Homo sapiens: one gene and its partners. The protein of the gene in region 2 interacts with the protein of the main gene of each other region in a biochemical or structural test. Each region holds a gene or a part of one and is shown on either strand. Other genes may lie near its edges.

Evidence for each region. Proteins that work in one complex are often made in the same cells at the same time.
Region 1: the proteins of HTRA3 (region 2) and KLHDC7A interact in a test that uses a peptide from one of them, tested with the Homo sapiens proteins (one large-scale study listed by IntAct).
Region 3: the proteins of HTRA3 (region 2) and TANC1 interact in a test that uses a peptide from one of them, tested with the Homo sapiens proteins (one large-scale study listed by IntAct).
Region 4: the proteins of HTRA3 (region 2) and SLC15A2 interact in a test that uses a peptide from one of them, tested with the Homo sapiens proteins (one large-scale study listed by IntAct).

What each region holds. Positions count from the first base shown.
Region 1 is NC_000001.11:18,478,657-18,484,121, reverse strand, and holds the start of KLHDC7A (kelch domain-containing protein 7A), read right to left. Parts: upstream 3,193-5,465; 5' UTR 3,141-3,192; coding exon 807-3,140; 3' UTR 1-806.
Region 2 is NC_000004.12:8,302,807-8,307,598, reverse strand, and holds the end of HTRA3 (serine protease HTRA3 isoform 1 precursor), read right to left. Parts: intron 3,416-4,792; coding exon 3,320-3,415; intron 1,629-3,319; coding exon 1,463-1,628; 3' UTR 501-1,462; downstream 1-500. UniProt on the Homo sapiens protein: Serine protease that cleaves beta-casein/CSN2 as well as several extracellular matrix (ECM) proteoglycans such as decorin/DCN, biglycan/BGN and fibronectin/FN1.
Region 3 is NC_000002.12:158,970,663-158,975,531, forward strand, and holds part of TANC1 (protein TANC1), read left to right. Parts: intron 1-4,869. UniProt on the Homo sapiens protein: May be a scaffold component in the postsynaptic density.
Region 4 is NC_000003.12:121,941,068-121,945,080, reverse strand, and holds the end of SLC15A2 (solute carrier family 15 member 2), read right to left. Parts: 3' UTR 893-4,013; downstream 1-892. UniProt on the Homo sapiens protein: Proton-coupled amino-acid transporter that transports oligopeptides of 2 to 4 amino acids with a preference for dipeptides. Transports neutral and anionic dipeptides with a proton to peptide stoichiometry of 2:1 or 3:1.

The DNA.
Region 1 (5,465 bases), on a different chromosome or scaffold from region 2:
AGTTAACATGGGCAGGGCCGAGGAGCAGGGTGGCCCTTGGATCACATAGTTTCTTCCCTTTGCTGAGACCTCCGTGTATCCTTAGCAGACCTCCACCAGAAGATAGCTTGGTACAATGGCTGCTTCTCTTTCTTCCAATAAGGAGAAAAGTAATGTGGGCTTTGGTATATTTTCTCGCAAGCAAGAGTCTCCTAGGCTGGCCCCAGCTTCAGCTGTTCTACTTTTCAAACCACCACTCCCTCTGGCCAGGGCCCCTGGGGCTCCCTCGGCTCCTTCCTGGCCCTGCCCAAGTCACCTGCCTCCATCTTTCCCACCTGTGTGTCCCGGTGCTTCTGGGAACTGTGGAGGTGGGGCCCAGTGGCTGATGTTTAGGAAGGGGCACTGATGGCTCAGAGAGCCAACCCCTCTCCAGAGCAACTAGCGAGGGGCTGCTGGGGTCAACTGGCTCCTAGAATTGTGATTGCAAAAAGACTATGCCCCCTAAGCTTTGGTGGGGTCCCGGTGTATCCCCCCAAGAATTCAGAGTTGAAGCAAGGGCGGTCATCCCTGAAGACATGAATGCCTTCTGCCTTGGAACACCAGCTCCTGGTCCTCTTTTCTGCAGTGGGGCCTCTGCAGCCCATGAAGGGTAAGACTCATCTAAGATCCCTCTCTCCCCAGCTAGGGGAGGAGAAAGGACCGGAATTCACCTCTTGATGGCCACATTCCTGGGTTGCCTGTTTGCCTAGAAATGGCCCCCAGAGGGACGGCTGGCAGTGGAGCCCGGTGGCCCCCAGCTTTGCATGAGGAGCTCAGTTGAGGGACTGCTAGACCCTGGTCTGAGGCAAATCGGGGGTGGGCAAGGTCAGGACGGTGGGCAGGAGGGTGCCCTGCGGGGCCGGGAAACTCCGCAGCTCCTTGGGCACAAACCTGGGTGAGACAGAGTCTGCTAGGAAGCAGAGGGTGCTCCGGCGTCCCACGCAGTAGATGAGGTTGTCCACCACGGCGCACTGGAAGGCATCCGGGTAAGGCGTCCGGTACGTGGCGCACTCGTACCAGAGCCGGGTGCTGGCGCTGCAGCGGTACACGGCGATGCCCAGGCTGCGGTTGAGGTCAAAGCGGTAGAGAAAGCCGTTGACCGCCACCATCTCGGCCGTGCGGTCCTTGCTGCCCCCGGTGGGGCCGGCCCACCAGCGCTGCTCCTGCGCAGAGAAGCGGAACAGCAGGAAGCGCAGCGAGCCGCCGGTGACGAAGATTTCCTTGGCACGCACCGTGGCCGTGTGCGCCAGGGCGAACGTGTCACTGGGGAGCGGCGGGGCAAAGTCCCAGCGGTCCAGGCGGGGGTCGTAACGCTCCACCGAGTTCAGACACTCTCCGCCGATGGCATACAGGTGCCCGTCCAGGGCCACCAGCCGGCAGTGCGGCCGGGCCTGGTTCAGCGGGCACACCTCGCTCCAGATCCCCGTGAGCGGGTTGTAGCAGAAGACGCGGCTGGAGGGCTGGTGCCCGGGCCCCTGGCAGCCGGACACCACGAAGAGATAATTGAAGAGACTGCAGATGGCACAGCCCCGGGACACGGCCTCGGGGGGCATGCGAGCCAGCGGGCGCCAGACATCCTGCTCATCGTCATAGCAACAGAGGCCGCCGGAGTCTTCCTTGGGGCACACGTCAGCCACCACCAGGTACTGGCGGCCCCGGAGCCGGCGCTGCAGGATCAGCTCGCGCTCTGCCCCGCTCAGGCACCCGTAGATGTCCGGGCTGCGCAGCACCTGCAGGTAGTTTTCGCTCATCACCTTGTAGGCCGCCTCTTTCAGGGCCTCCAGGTTCTGCCTCTTGGCCAAGGTCAGCACCTCATAGCAATTGCCCAGATCCAGGCGGACCTGTGGGGCTGAAGCAGGGGTGAGCGGGATATGGAAGAAATTGGTCCCGGCCACCGGCTGCACATGGGGCTCCCGGCTGCTTCTGCCTAAGCCAGGCAGGGCGCCCGGGTCTGGGCAGGGTGGAGCGGGGAGCCGGAAGCCATCTGGCTGCAGCTGCAGCTCTGGGTTCTCCGCTATCTGCAGAAGGCTCTCCTTCCGGCTGAAGCCTCGGGTGGAGGGCCACGGCCCTGTCTGCGGGGAGGCGGCTCTTTCGGCTGCACCCTTTGTGTCACCGGCTTGGCCTCCCGAGGCAGCCCCTGTTCCCAGGGACCCTGGCGGTGGCCTAGGGGATGGAACCTCAGTCAGGGCTGCTGTCCTGGGAGCCAGCCTGCCCTGGAAGATGGCCTGAGAGGTAGATTCCACATAGTAGTCGTACACCTTGCCCTTGAGCCGGGGCTCAACCCCCTCCGCCTTCTGTATGAAATGCTCCTCCATTCGGACGCGGGCTATGGATGAGAAGGTATAGGAGGAGTTGGGGGCGCCCTCCTGCTGATGCAGGGTCAGGTCAACATCGGAGGCAGCCTCGAGAGCCCCAGCCTCTTCTCTGCTGACCCCTATCACACGGGTGAAGACCCAGCTCTGGTTCATGTCACTGCTGCCTTGCAAGGGAGCCACGTAGTGACAGTGGGGAGGTTCTAGTTGCCCCAGTCCTGGATGCTCACGGGGTTTACTGTCCTGCCATGGAGAAGGCTCACCACCGGCACAGCTGCCGTCGGCTGCTGCAATGAGTCCAGCTGGGGAGCTCTTCGGTTCGCTGCCCAAGCGGGGGAAATGGGGAGGGTCAGGGTTACTGCCAACAGCTGTTCTGGTTTCCTGGCTGGGGCAGCAAGGAGGCACCTGCTCAGAGTCCGAGCCCTGCCCGCCCCGCTCCTCACCTGAGCCTTTTCTCTGGGGCTTCCTGTCTGTGGAAGTGGCCCCCGTGACCAGGACATAGGGGCCTCTTGGATTCTCACAGCTGCAGCCCTGTGGTGCTTCAGCCCGCTTGCTGCTCCTCCGACGTCTTGGCCCCCTCAGGAGCACCCCAGGAGAAGCCTCCTGTACAGCAGGCTGCCCTGAGCCCTCTGCTTCCTCCTTGGCTTCTGCCTGGCCATTCCCACCCCACCGCTGGGCTGGGGCAGGCCTCGACTTGTACAGCCTGTAGGCCACAGTCACCAGGAGCAGGGCAGCGGCTGACAGCACCACCTTGCCGGTCAGCTGCATATCCAAATGCCAGTCCTGGGCCTCTGCTCCTCTGGGGAACATGCTTCTCCAGCCAACCTGGGGCTGAGGAATGTCAAGAATCTGATTAATAATTGCCCAGTAGGGACCAGTTCCTGGGTCCTGCTGAGCGGAGGGGAGGGAGTTCTGGGCTGGTTCTGGCTGGCCAGCCGAGGAGAGGAGAGGAGCAAAGGTGACTTTGAGCTGCAGAGGGTGGCCGCTGGGGCCCAGAGCTGGCAGATCCCAGCGGCTGGCCTCCTTCCATGCTTCCCTGGTGGCTGGGGTGGGGGGCCCGCCCAGGGGCTGAGCTTGTGATCAGCCACCTAAGCCAGCTCTGTGGTCAGCAGCTAGGGGATGTTAGGAGTATCCAGTGGGCATACAAAAGAGGAGGAAGCTCTTAACCAAACAGTCACCCGATGCCAGGAAATGCATGGGGTTGGTTATTCTTTATGTGTGTGCTTTATTTTCTCTTTTGCAAGTCCACTGGGCTCAGAGGCTTGGGTGTGGTGAGTCATGGGCAGGTGGAGCCCCAGTAGGCGTGGATGGGGTCATTCTTGTGAGGTCTGCTGGTCCTCACAGTGGGGTCAACTTTATGCTGGCCAAGCAGGGAACGGGAACATGGCAGTGGAGTCTGGAGCCAGGGCATGCAGCCAAGCCACCTGAGCCGGCCCTTGAGTGCCTCTGCCCTCCTTCCCTGCCTGACAAGTTTATTAAGAAAAACCAGCCTTTCTGAGAACAGTGGAGAAAGACATTGCATTAGTGCTCAGATCGGGGTTAGATGTGGACACATCTTCTCTTTTAAAACCAGACAATCTCCTACGGTGAAAGATTGAGGGAAGACTCACGTCTCCCAGACCCCCCCTCACCATTTCCCCTCCCCCATCACCAGTGCTGTGGGTCCTGGACCCAGACTACCTGGCTCTGCTACTTACCAACTATATGACCTTAGGCAAGAGACCTCACCGCTCTGTGCTTTGTCTGAAAAAGGAGGATGACAGCATACGCACCTCATCAGCTTGTGGGGAGAACTAAATGGGCTACTAGGAATAAACACTGGGGCAGAGCCCCCATCATGAAAGCTTAGTAAATATGAACTATTCTCTGCTTCTTCCTCCTTTTCCTCTTTCTGATCATCGGCACCATCATCGCTAGTATCAATTGTCATCAGAGGACCTTCCAAAGCACAGAACTAATTCTACCCTTCTCCTGACCAAGGTCCTCAAAGAGTCCCCAAAGTCCTGTGCAGGGGTCTCAAACTCTTGCTGCATATGGAGGCTGGGTAGGTAAAGTGAACAAGTAAGGACGTCTGTCCGCCCCACCCCAGCCGATGGTATCAGGCCCAGCATTGCCTCATCCTCCCACTGTCGCAAAAAGCTTAGAATCCCAGTAGTGACATAATCACTCTCAATTTTAAAATGTTGGCATCTGATTCAAAAATGAAACTGAAAAACACTGTGGGCCACAGGAAGCACACGCATGGGAGGAATTTGGCTCTGAAGGCTTTGACTCTAGGAGACAATCCTGACTCCCTATGCCGACGTTCACAACTCTCTGTGTACCAGCTTCGGTTTACTCTTCCAGATGCATCTCCTGATCACTGCCTAGCAAACCGGGCTCAGGGTGACTTCTTGGCAGGGAAGGCTGGTGGACATCCCTCTGGCCCATCAGAGTTGGGTAAAAGGCTGTGTCTGGGCCTTCTTCCCTGGTGCCTTCATCCGTCCAAGATCACCTTTTCTTCCTTTGGGTCTCGTGTTCTCTGATGCTCCTCTTTTAGGCTTGGCCACAGCTGCTGCATCGTAAAGTGCATTGTGTGCAAGATCTGGTCTGCTGCATTCTAAGTCCTTGAGGACAGAGGCTGTAGCTGGCTCAGCTGTGGACCCTAAGCCTATGTGGGGCCCTGCACCATTTGGGACAATAGCCAGCAGGGATTGTCTTTACACTGAGTGGATTGGGGTGAACACTCGGGATGAAGCTCATCTCATCTCGTCTCATGCTCACAGCCCCTTTGGGGAGAGACACGATTGTTATCCCCATTTGACAGCAGCGGTAACTGGACCTCCAAGATTATGTCAACTGGCTTGTAAATGGGGACTCAAAACCTTGTTTGCAGAGTCCAGAGTTTTACAGACCTGACTTCATCCAGCAGGTGTGACCTCTTAGAAAGTCAGGTGTCCTCAGCCTGTCCCACTGGTAGCTGTCAAGAGGGGTCCCCTGAATTCTCTTTCTTTCCATCCTGGTCAAAAGAGTGCCTATCAATGCAATGTGCACAAGGATCACAAGGGGTGCTTGTTAGAGATGCAGCTTGCCTGCCTGCCTGCCTGCCTGCCTGCCTGCCTGCCTGCCTGCCTGCCTGCCTTCCTTCCTTCCTTC
Region 2 (4,792 bases):
AAATTGCTCTCTGCCTCAGTTTCCCCATCGCTGGATGGGTGGCAGGGAGGGTGAAATAGATGTGAGAAAGGGTTCTTCATGTGACCAGACGTGCACAGTGGGGCTTAGTGGGAGCTCCCCGTAAGCCGGGTGGCTTCCCAAGTGCTGCATCTGTCACCTTGCATCCCAGGGCATCCAGGAGGTCAGCACAGCAGAGCCAGCCTTCCTGCTGGACAGAGGCAGAGGCCAAGGTAGGGAGGGGAACATCTCTTGCCCAAGACCACGAAGCCGGAAGTAAGCGGAGGAGCCAGGACTTGAGCCGGGCTGCCTGACTCGGAGCTGGCCCTCCACAGCGCCACATGACCCCGAGACCTGGTGTGCCCCAGTGCTCAGCTGTCATAGAAACCCTTTAAAGGCCCGTGTCTTTGCAGGTATGCCCAGTCATGTGTTAGATGGGTCCCCAGGAAGAACCCTGGCCAGTGGTGGGTAGGCTGCCCCAGTGCCCTGCTGGCTGAGAACCGTGTGCTTGTAAACTTTATTTTCCATACAGTAGAGAAACATACAGTACAAGCAACACTGGGAATCCATTTACAGCAAAGCTCACAAATGCCCCTTGAGACACACTCGTTCCCTGGATGAGGGGGTGGTGCCCAGCAGCCTGCATGCCTCTGGGCGGCACTTCCATGCGAGCGGCTGCTGCATCCCAGAGCTGCGTGGGAAGGGGAAGCCGGCTCAGTCCTCACACCCCGCAGCTCCACGTCCACTGTCCTCTGCAGGCTGCCCCATGGCCGCCTTGGGGAGGAGAAGCTTCCCCAGGCAGCAGCCAACTTTCCACGTGCTCCCCGCGGCCTCCTGCCTGCCTGGGGAGGAAAACCTCATGGCAGGGCGGGGCTCAGCTCCGCAGCCAGGGGGCATTCACTCAGTGCCTGCTCTGGGCTGGACCCCACCCCCGCACCCCAAAGGGATCAGATGTGACCTGTCCTCCAGGGACCCCAGGCTGGCAGGCAGCAGCCCTGGCCCTACAGCTTGGTAAGTCCTAGGGCAGAGGGAAGCTGGGGCCTCAGGTCAGGTGGGCGTTTGTCAGGGGGGAAGAAGCTTGGCAGCCCAGACCTGCAGTAGGAGGGGCAGGAGCAGGGGATACTGCAGATGGGTGTTCACAGGGGCAGAGGCGGGAAGCTAGGAGAGGAGGGGACCTCCATGGAAGGCAGTTTTGTGAATATCCGGAGAACTTGGAAGTGACTTTCAGGATCATCTGTACAAGGGGATGTTGGGCTTCCCTCCCCGGCACCGGGATGTGGATCCAACACTCCCCAGGCGGAAATTCGGGCCCCTGGCCAAGCCCAGCCTCCGCTCTGCCCCGGACAGCCAGGAGGAGGCTGCCGCCCTGCTGAGGACCGACGGTGGTCCTTCGTCCTGATCTCGGGGGGGCGCTGCCCTCCGTTGTCTGCAGGCTCTGACGCTTGGCGCTGGAGGAATGCGCCCCTCACATGACCACCTCAGGTGCGATGCTGAAGAGGAGGTCGTCGTTCCCCCGCCGCACCTCCAGTAGGAGAGGAGACTCGGTCAGCACGGCCTCCTGCAGCTCACTCGAGTCCACTAGAGGACGCCCGTTGACCTTGACGATGATGTCACCATCTTGGATGCCGCCTCTGCCAACAGGAGAGACGGGGTCACCACCCACCGCCTCCCCAGGCACAGCCTTCCCAGGCCCGGCCCAGAGCGAGGCACAGTCAGGGTCAATGACAACATTTCAACAAAAGTCATCTCGATGGGAAAGAACAGTGCCCCAGCCCCAAAGCTCTCACACCAGAAGAAAACCAATGTCACACGACAGGGAAACAACCTTTCAAACTGCTTCTCCCATGCGTCAGAAGGGTGGGTTCAAGCTCCCGCTGCAGCCCTCCTAGCTGGGCCAGGCACTCTGTCCCCTTGTGCCTCAGTTTTCATGTCTACCATCCTATGTGGAAACGCACTTTGCAAATTATAAAGGCCCAGGAGTAGGTTCTGCTGTTACTGCAGTTACGAAGACGTCTATGTGGGAGGCAGAGCTCACGGGGCCAGCCTTCTCTCTGCATGAGGCTCACTGAGACCTCCCCACTGCTGGGAAGGAAGGTGATGGTACTGTGCTCAGCTGCGTGGGCACCAGCATCAGGACCCTCACATGCCAGCTGTGTGACCTGGAAGAGTAACTTCTCTAAACCTCAGTCCCTCCACCTGTAAAATGGGTGAGGGCAGGAGCCTGCACCTCCCTGGCTGCAGTGAGGATTAACTGAGATGTGTGTGGAAAATTTCACCCAATTTCAACAATTTTTACTGCAGGCCTGCTGCGGGCAGGACAAGTGTGCCATCTGTGCTCATCACAGAAGTTCACGCGGGGCCTCCCACCTTCAAGCCCAGCCTCTGAGGATGCACAGTACAGTCGGCCCTTGAACAACATGGGTCTGAACTGTGTGGGTCCACTTATATGTGGATTTTTCCCACTGCAGATGAAGACCGAGGCTAAGGAGGGGAGGCAACTGGTTCAGAGCCCTTCTTGGGAGTGGGTCAGCCATGCCAGCATGTGGTAGTGTCGCTGCACGCCTGCCTCAGCCTATGGTGTTGCAATGCTTAACATTTCTCTAGTACTGGAAGACTTCAAAGAAAGCAATCCTTTATCCATTTCATCTACAAAGTCTCCTGGGGGTAGAAATCCCAGCACTTTGGGAGGCCAAGGCAGGTGGATCGCCTGAGGTCAGCAGTTCAAGACTAGCCTGGCCAACGTGGTGAAACCCCTTCTCTACTAAAAATACAAAAACAATTAGCAGGGCATGGTGGTGGGCACTTGTAATCTGAGCTACTCAGAAGGCTGAGGCAGGAGAGTCGCTTGAGCCCAGGAGGCAGAGGTTGCAGTGAGCTGAGATCGCGACACTGCACTCCAGGCTGGGCAACAAGAGGGAGACTGTCTCAAAAAAAAAAAAAAAAAAAAAAAAAAAAAAACAATAGGCTGAATTATCTCCACTTTACAATGAGGAAGCTGAGTCCCAGAAAGACCCAGGACCCAGGCTGGTCCCCAGCTAGTGAAAGAGTCTGGCTTGGAGTGGGTTCTTAGCCCAACAGGGACTCTTCAGCCTCTGCTTCTCGAAGGAAATGACATTGTGGGACTTAGGACGTACACAGTCAGGGCTCTAGGGACCATTCAGCTCTCCAGCCTCCTCTGGCTTAGCAGACACGCTAGAATCCACCTGCCCCTTCCCGGTCACTTTGCTGGGAAGCTCAAGGTCACATGAGGTCAGTGGGGCAGCCCCAGCCCAGACCTCACGCCTGCCCCATGCCTCGAGCGATCTCCTCTGGCAGAGCCTACCTCTGAGAAGGTGAATTCGGCGCAACCTCTTGCACATAAATTCCACTGCTGACCTCTGGGAAGTCCGGGTTGCTGGCCTTCAGCTCATCCACCAGGCTGGAAAGAGTCTGCCGTCAAGGCCCCTCCCCTGAGCCTTTGCCCAGCTCTTTGGTATGAAGCTGCCCCTCCCTCCCTCCAGCACCAGACCAGAAGAGGAGCCACCTCTGGGCCCCCATACTGCCCTGTCCCACCACTGGCCACTCTGTGTCCCCTACCAGATGTGCTTCTTAAGAGAAACGTGGTAGCAATAGCTGGTTAGAAGCGTGAAGAGAGGAGAGAGAGTGGGTAGACAGGTGGGAGGAGGGGCGGGAGGATGGATGGATGGATGGATGGATGGATGAATGAAGGAATGATGCTGGATGGGTGGATAGAAGGAGAAATGGACAGACAGGCAATGCTGAGTCATGGAATGGACAGACAATGCTGAGTCACGGAACGTACAGACAATGCTGAGTCACGGAACGGACAGACAATGCTGAGTCATGGAATGAACAGACAATGCTGAGTCATGGAACAGACAGACAGAAGACTGGACAGAGGTGGGATGGACAGACAGATAAAAGAGACAGAAAACAAAAGATAAATTGGCATACTGGACATTGATAATTTTTTTCAAATGTCACCCCTAGATTAGCAGAGTTGGTGAAACAGGAGGAATGACAGCTTTAGGGACTGTGTGCTTTGAGGAAATGGTCACTTGAGCATTCTCGAGTTCTTCCTAGGCTCCCGATGCAGTGACCTCTCCCTTCTTCAAACCTCGAAGCTCAAGTTTGTACTTCCAGCCTCCCTTCTATCCTGCCCCTGCTTCCTCTCCCCCAGCCCCTTCTTTCTTGCACTCATTCAGCATTTCCAGGCACCTGCTCTGCAGTGGACCTGCTTTTGGGGCAGAGTGGAGGAATAAGTAGGTCACAGTCCTTGCTCCCAAGGAGCTGACAGCCGAGGAGGCAGGATGGGGTGGGGCGGTCCCACCACAGGTGATTCCGACACAGCAGGATGAGTTCAAGGCTGGAGAGGGAGGCCAGGGCTCTGTGTGCTATGAGGAGGCACCTTCTGCCACTTGAGTGTCCTGGGAATGCAGAATGGTGTTCCCCCAAATTCGTGTACACCCAGAGCCTCAGAATGTGACCTTGTTTGGAAATAGGACCTTTATAGATGTCATTAGTTGAAGATCTTGAGAAGAGACCTTCTTGGTTTAGAGTGGGCCCTAACTCCAATGATGGATGTTTTCATAAGAGAAACGAGAGAGAGATGTGCACACAGATACTCAGAGAGAAAGAAGGTCAAGTGAAGACAGAGGTAGAGACTGCAGGGAGGCAGCCACAAGCCAAGGATGCCTGGAGCCAGCAGAAGCTGGAAGGGGCAAGGAAGTAGCTTTCCCTGGAGCCTCAGAGGCAGAGTGCAGCCCTGCCGACCCCTTGACTTCAGATCCCCGAC
Region 3 (4,869 bases), on a different chromosome or scaffold from region 2:
ATATCCTTCAGGACTTCCTCCTAGGGTTGTTCCTGTTACCTGCCAAGTGAACTTGGTTCAGGCTTCCGGACTGTTGTGATTTGACAATAAGAGATGGGAAATAGTGTCATCGATTTTAGTGGAAGCAGGAAAAGTCCACAAATAAATTTAAGGTGAGTTTTTATGACCCTGTCTTGCACATGTGGTGCCCCAAACTTAACTTTTTGGCACCAAGCCTTTTGGTTTGAAGTGTTGCTGGAACTTGGAAGCAATGGTTTTCCTGCTTTCTTGGTTTAACCACCAGAATGCCCAAATTATTATAATTTATATCCATCCTTGATCTAAGATATAACTGATTCATAGTCAGCCTTTTTCTGCTTCCCATAACAGCCTGTAGAAAAAAGAACATTTTGTCTCTTTAACCACACACGATTTATTTGGTGCCATAGTAGGTTTTGACACTGGGTGATTGAGGGCATAATTTTAGAGACAATGGAGTTGTCTGGATTAAATCGTCCATTTTTAGGCAACGTTCTCTTCTGAGTTGCTGATTAATTCTTTATTTCTCTGGGAACATTAAAACCAGCATCCCTGAGCCAGTGGAACTATAATCCATATTATAATGACTCCTGCCAGCATAGCTGGAGGTTAACTTTATGTCGTTGTTTCCATTAGACATTTCTAACCTAATTGTAAAGATTTTGTCTCAGTTGGGTTGAGAGTAGGGTTGAGAGTCTCATAGAAAAAGAAATGGCTTTATTTTTATCTTTATGATAAAATAAAGTTTGTGTTACAGGAATACATTTACAGAAGCAAAATAAAGAAGAGTGTTTATATATTTGTGGGGAGGATTTGTTTTAGTGTTTAAAATAGTTTGGTTTTCAACTGTCTCTTAAATGCATATTTCAGTGGTGGAAAAACCAGAACCTCTCCCTGCCCCCTTTCTCCCCACGTTATGAAAGTGTTCACTGTACAAAGAACTCTTAAGCCTTTCTGGGTCTTGGTTTTCTCATTTTTTTCATCCCTAAAATGGGATTACCTTGCATCCCTAAAGTTCTGTGACTCTCCAAAAGTTTGAGAAATGTAGGAATTCTGAAGCCAGTGCTGTAATGTTAGAACACTGCTATGGGGTTTATAAGGGCTTGATTTACACATTTTATCCCTAACCCTTTATTTGAATAAACCAAGGCCTAGAAAGTTAAATTAGACCTGTATCATCTATAAATAGTTGAGTTGAACTTGAACCAGAGTCTTCTGATTCTCCCTAGTCTCTTCTCCTCTGTTTATTCAAACCTGCCAAACAGACTAAAGTTAATATGTGGCAATTTCTCACAATACATTTTTAGGGTTATATATGAGTTATTTTGATTTCAGAACCCCAGGGTTAACATCTATGCTTTGATGTCAGGGATTAAAAACAGTTCACCAATAATGGTAATAAAACTTTCTCCTCAAGAGAGTTTCAGAAAGTCACATGCTTCAAACTAATCATTTGTTTATTTTCAACTTCTTTTTTATTAAGTAGGCTTCAGGGTGTAATGTGATTTATAATCCGGACTAGTAACCCAGACAGCATTCTTAAGGAAATCACTTCTCAAATCTGTACCTCTTTTTAAAAATAAAAAATGAACATATCATTTGCCTTTGATCTTGGTATCTCTCAGCCTAATTGCAAAGCCTGGGTGAGTATTCCTTTTTTTGGTGTCATCATTCTTGGACTGTTCCTACTGATGGCTGGATAAGTCTGATTTTGCAGCACTTTCCATGCTAAATACATCCTTCCCTTATGCTGTTGGGTTGATGGTAAAGAGGTAGTAGGTTGCAGGTGACCCATTTTTGCTGTGTCTCTAAATGTTTGTGCTTTGTCCTGCTTGCCTAGTTAGCAGCACTCACTGCAGCTTGACACTCATCTGGAGGCTGGTATTGATTTTCTTTAACAGGTTCTAAAATGCAATTATGTGTTAAGCTGTAGGCTCTTTTATGTCTGAGCAGCTTGTCCATCTTCAGCTTTTTAAACTTATTCTCAGAGGAATGTCTTTTCAAAATATTAAGCAATGGGGTTTAAACCTCAATAAGAAGATGTATCAGTGCTCATTGGCTGGGAAGGAGGTGTAGTATATCTGAAATTGCCGCCATTTCCATGAGTGAGAGAAGAGAACATTATGAAGTGCTATTAGCTAGAGAAGTTGGGACACTTTGTACCAGGAGGGCACAAGAGCAGCAAAGGAGAAGAATGATTCTTGGTTTTTAATAATATTATCAGGAGCATGGATTTGGAATGATAGAGGACTTTGAAGAAGGCTTTCAGAGGACATTATCTTGTGGAGAGTGAAAGGAGTTCTCCTGGTTTGGTTTAGCTGTGTTGCTGATGGAACTTGCCCTTCTAGGGTCGGTGTTGTCTTTAGGTTCCCCTGCAGGTGGGTGTGATCAAGGAGAATGTTCTAGAAAGAAGAGTTCCATAGACAGAATGTCAAGGACAAAAGTGTTGCAGAGGGATGACATAGTTCCTGGATTTTAGCACAGATTTTTTCGCTAACATGAGGGAATTTATTAGGGGAAACCTTCCAGTTGTAGAGGTAGACAGATGCGAACCCATCATGTTCAGTTCACATAGCCCAGAGCCACAGTGACTCAACCTCTTCCCTGCCCCACCTCAGCACACCTAGGGTTACGTGCCAGTCATGAACAGTGGCTTATTACCTCTTTGGGTAGGAGATGGGGGTGGAGAGTAGGGAAGTCTCTCAGAAGCACTCAGCTGTGACCTTTTCATGCATGTATACCCATGCAAAAATGGGATCCTCTGTTGCATGAGCTTTTGAAGAAATATGAAAAAGATCATACGTATACGGCTGCTGGTATTATAGCTCTCAAGCCTCACATCCAGAATTGGCCTTTTTGATGTTAGTTCCAATTTGGGAAAGCCCTGGAGGGAACCCGAATTGGCTTGATGCCAGCCAAAGGAGAGTTACGGTTAGACCCATAAAATGGGGCTGTGGGGAGACAAAGTATCCCACAAAGAAGAGGGTTATTGTTAATGGAAGAGGGAGGGAGCTGGATCAACAAAAGAGCTAGCCAGGGCAGTGTACATTTCCACAAGTGGTACTGCTGATCATAACAACATACCAAAGGATATGAAGATTCTTAATGTTGTTGTGATGTACACCCCTGTAGTCTTGAGGGCAGTGGACTTGTCCACATTCTGTGGGACTCTGAATTGCTATGTACACAGACATGAGGGGGTATTGAATTACTGCTAAAAACGTAAGAGTTGGTCATTATTCCCATGTAACCCATTACACTCCCCTCTCTCTGCCATGCTTTGTTCTAAATTACTTGGGATAAGTAACATTAATTATTAATGTTTATTGAGTGCCGGCTGACTCTGAACTACATGTTTGAATTTTAAAAGTCTGTGGATGAAACAGTTTGGTTCTTTCTTCTCCTGTTGTCCTACATACGTAGAATACTATGGCAGGGATGGTCACCATACAACAGCATTCTGTGTTCTGGTCCTCCTTGCTTCTTGTGGCTTAACAACAACTGTTTATTTGCTTGGGATTCAGAAATGGGGGCCAGGTTCCCTGTGCCTAGGCTCACTGGTGCCGTGGTGGTTACATGATTCATTGAGGGCCATTGCTGCAATAGTTTACAACATTATAACCATCCTTGATACCTATGGAAGATTGGTTCCAGGATTCCCACGGATACTAAAATCCTCAAATGCTTAAGTCCCTTATTAAAAATCATGTATTATTTGCATATAGCTTATGCATACCCTCATATATATATATTTTTTAATTTTATTATTTCGAGACAGAGTCTCACTCTGTTACCCAGGCTGGAGCACAGTGGTACAATCTCAGCTACTGCAACCTTTGCCTCCCGGGTTCAAGTGATTCTCCTGCCTCGGCCTCCCGAGTAGCTGGGATTACAGGCATGTGCCACCACGCCTGGCTAATTTTTGTGTTTTTAGTAAAGATGGGGTTTCACCATGTTGGCCAGGCTGGTCTTGAACTCCTGACCTCAGGTGATCCACCTGCCTCAGCCTCCCAAAGTGCTGGGATTACAGGCGTGAGCCACCTTGCCTGGCCTCCTTTGTATTTTATTTTGAGAAAGGGTTTCCATTTGTTGCCCAGGCTGGACTGCACTGGTGTGATCATGGCTCACTGCATCCTCAACCTCCTGGACTCATGCAATCCTTCCACCTCAGCCTCCTAAGTAGCTGGGAGTACAGGTGCACACCACCACACCCAGCTAATTTTTGTATTTTTTTTTTTTTTTTTTTTTTGTAGAGACAGGGTCTTACTATGAGACCAGACCAGGCTGGTCTCAACTCTTGGTTCAAGTGATCCTCCTGCCTTGGCCTCTCAAAGTGCTGGGATTACAGGCATGAGCCAACCCCCCAGTCCTCCTTCATACTTTAAATCATCTCTAGATTATTTATAATACCTAATATAATGTAAATGCTAGATAAATAGTTGTTATTCTGTATTGTTTTAAAATTTATATTTTTATTGTATTTATTGTATTTTATTGTGTTTATTGTATTGTTATCTTTTTTCCAGTGGTCAGTTACTAGAATATTTTTTGAATATTTTCTAACCTAGGTTTGTTGAATCTGTGGCCATGGAACCTGAGATATGGAGGGTTGGGTGTGGAGGGGGGTGACTGTGCTTACTACTATAATCCTGCTTTTGATTAGTTTTCCACTGGCCATGTACTTAAGGGTAAGGTGGATGCGTCCCCTGCCCCAGGGAGTGAATTTTGATTAAGCCATCAATTTTAGTAATGCCATACCTTTTGCCAGTGACTCATTAATGAATATGTATGTGACGCCTGTTAGGTCCTGGCATATTTGAAGCATAAGGTTGTCAGCACAAGAGAACAAGT
Region 4 (4,013 bases), on a different chromosome or scaffold from region 2:
ACTTAATGTCTCTAATTGGATATCCATTAGCATGGGTAGAAGCTCAACATGTCCAAAACAAAACTCATACCAGAAAACTTTTCTTATCCTAGTCTTTGCTATTTCTAGAAAATTGCATCCTGATTCATCCTTACTACTTAGGACCAAATCTAGGAGTGAGCTTTTTTCTTTCTTTCTTTTTCTTTTCTTTTTCCTTCCTTCCTTCCTTCCTTCCTTGCTTCCTTCCTTCCTTCCTTCCTTTCTCTCTCTCTCTCCACCCCCCACCGCTTCTTTCATTTTGAGACAGGGTCCTATTGTCCAGGCTGGAGTACAGTGGTGTGATCATAGCTCATTGCAGCTTTAAGCACCTGGGCTCAAGGGATTGTTCTGCCTCAGCCTCCTGAGAAGCTGGGGTTGCAGGTGCACACCACCACACCCGGCTAATTTTTTTATTTTTATTTCTTGTAGAGAGGGGGTCTCATTATGTTGCCTAGAGTGGTCTTGAACTCCCGGCTTCAAAGAATCTTCCTGCCTTATCCTTGCAAAGAATTGAGATTACAGGTGTAAGGCACCACATCTGGCGCATTTCTTTCTTTTAAATTGTGTATCCAAACTACACTCAAATCTTGTCAGTTCTAGCTTAAAGTTTAATTCCAAGTCAAACCATTTCTCTCCACCTCCACTACTATCACCTTGTCCAAGTCACTACCATCTATTGCCTGAACTATTGCAAAAGCCTCCTAACTTAACTCCTTACTTCTTTTCCTTCCTGACTATAGATAATTCTCCCCTTAGCAGCCAAAGTGATCTTAAATGATCACATTATGTCACTCTCATGTTCTAAACTTCCAATGGTTTAACATGTCACTTAGAATAACATCAAAATGTCTTACAATGGTGACAGTCATATATGTCCATATATAGTCAGAGTCTTTAATATGCAAATGTTAAGAAAAACTCTATATTGCAGTTTCAGTCAATGACAGACCAAATATGTGATGGTGGTCCCATTAGATTATAATACTGCATTTATACCTCTTTTCCAATTTGTGTGTCCACATTTTTTCAAATGAATTATGTCATTCACTTTTTAAAAAATTGATACATAACAGATATAGACATTTTCAGAGCACATATGAATAATTTGATACATCTATATAATGTGTAAAGTTTTTTGTACCGTTTCTATGTTTAGATATGTTTAAGTATAAAAATACCATTGTGTTACAATTGCCTACAGCATTTAATACAGTAACATGCTGTGCAGGTTTGTAGCCTAGGAGAAACAGTCTACACCATATAGCTGGAGAAACAGTCTATACCATATAACTTAGATGTGTAGTAGGCTATACCATAGGTTTGTGTAAGTACACTCTATGATGTTTGCATAATGACAAAATTGCCTAACAATGCATTCCTCAAATGTATCCCTGTCATTAAGTGATAAGTGCTAGAATGTAAGCCCACATTATGATGTAGTTTCCAAAAACAACTCATGTTACCTTACACTGCATTAACAGAAGTGCATTGTTTGAAGAAAGGCAGGTGCTAGTTCTTCCAGTCAGACTACTTTGGAATGTTATATTTGACTCCAGGCACTTCATATTAAGATATCTTAATATTAATTGCTGTATTTCAGATAAAGAATGTTTTTCAGAAGACAGAAAGTAGGATGGTAAAAGGACAAATTATGCCTGGTGAGGAACCATTACAGGAACCGAGAATCTTTACCTTGAATACTTGATGATTAGGGAAGAGCCATGAAAGTTCTCCCCAAATAGCTAAACATCTGCCACATGAAAAAGGGGGTATACATATTCTTTTCTTTTTTTTTTTAGATGAAGTCTCACTCTTGTCCCCCAGGCTAGAGTGTGATGGCGTGATCTCGGCTCATTGCAACCTCTGCCTCCCGGGTTCAAGCAATTCTTCTGCTTCAGCCTCCCGAGTAGCTGGGATTACAGGCACCTGCCATCACACCTGGCTAATTTTTGTACTTTTAGTAGAGACACGGTTTCACCATGTTGGCCAGGCTGGTCTCGAACTCCTGACCTCAGGTGATCCACCTGTCTCAGCCTCCCAAAGTGCTGGGATTACAGGCATGAGCCACTGTGCCTGGCCGGCTGTTATACTTATTCTTGTTAGCTACAGGGGAAAAAAAACAATGGTAGGAGGTTTCAGAGAGGAAGCTCAGCACTTACAAGGAAGAACTGCTCAACAGTTTTTTCCAAACCAATGTTCTGCAGCGTACATGTTAATTTAAACAAGGTATCTTGTGTCTTTACTGCAGGATATCTCAGAGTCTTTAATATGCAAATGTTAAGAAAAGGATACAGTATGCCACATTTCCCAAACTTATTTGTCCATAGACACTTCTATTTACAGAACTGTGTTAATGTCTCTTGAAACAATGGTCATAGAACAGTTTGGGTTAAAGCTATTTAAAAATGAACAGGCTGTCTTCTAAAGGAGTAGGGTCAGGTTCACATCAAGATATCTGGAAAAACTGGTTGGTCTGGCTGCCGCTCTTATATTTCTGAAATGCTTGTCATTAAAACTGAAGTATATAAAGTTTGGGCACTTAGAGCAATTTCTCTTACCTGTTAACAGTAACATTATCTGTTAATATTAACAGGTGCCTGTTAACATGAACATTGTTACGTATTAACATTAACAGTATGAGACCCAACACTGTTCTACATGAGAATAATGTTTTAAAACCAATGGAAATGAAGCTCTCTAGAACAGTGATTCTGAACTTTTTTCCTAGTAACACACTGCACAGTCGTGCCATTCCCGTGTCTGTCCTCTGATTCATTCATTGTGTATGAGGTAATGTTTCTCAATTTTTTTTCATGACCATACACATACACAAACAAAACCCTCATGCTCTACCATCCCTACTCCCACAAATTTTGATAGGAACCTCACATAGGACCATGCTCCTCTATTGACATTTCCATTTTAGAACCTCAAACCTAGAGCATTAATGTAACTTTTTTTGAATAAAAAGAAAATTTCTAGGCTTCAAGGCAGAAATGGTATTTAAAACTTATGGGAAAAGTAAATCAGGAAAACAACATCAAAAAGGAACTACTTTGATATTTTTGAGGCTAAATGGAAACATTAATAAAGGAAGTTGGACTTATAGAAACATTGTTGTTATTGAATATTTGCTGCAATAAGCAAGACAAGGTGTAATAATAAGAAAAAGCTGGATCAGCAAGGTTGACAAGACAAGGTTGCAAATTATAATTATTGTTTATACAACTGTTCACTGAAGGGCATAGACCAGCGCCATAGAGGCTAAGAAGAATGTACTCTGTAAAAGAATGACTGGCTCTTCAGGATTTCTACAACTTACACCTGTTCCTGTTCTCCAGAACAATGTTTACTAATGCTTACTATCTCTAATCTGGTTTCCATGATCTATCCATACTGAGAAAGGAGGGTTTGGATAAGTAAATAAAATACTATCATAATCAGAGAGATATAACTTCTCCTGTGTTTTAATAAAATGGCATTCTGCTTCCTACCATCTATATTGACAAATTTACTAAAGTCATATCAAACCTAGAGAGCTGACAAGCCAGGCCCTGGCTGGACCAGATCACATCATACATACCAATTCTTGAGGCCCCTGTGAATAGCATAATTACATTGCTTATAAAAAAAAAAACTTGAAATACCATTTCTTTGTTATTCTGCAATTTTGCCTCTAAATCAGCACCTCAAAAATTAGGGCCATCAGTCCTAAATGGCAGTTACCTATAAAGGAATTCCCATAACTTTGCATACCCACAGAGAATGATCTCCATTATACGTGTGTATTTTCATGGTCATTTGGAGACACCAGGCCAGCTCCAGCAACACTGCACAAGTTTTAATGAGTTCACTGATGGACGGGCAGACATAGAGTCTCTGGGGCCTTGTTTAAAGATGTACTGGAAAACCAGTCCTGGAACTTCTGTCATTGGAGAAAGGTGGAGGAGATCAGCTCTGATATGCTGCTATCTCTCTTGTCTAATCCAGTAGAA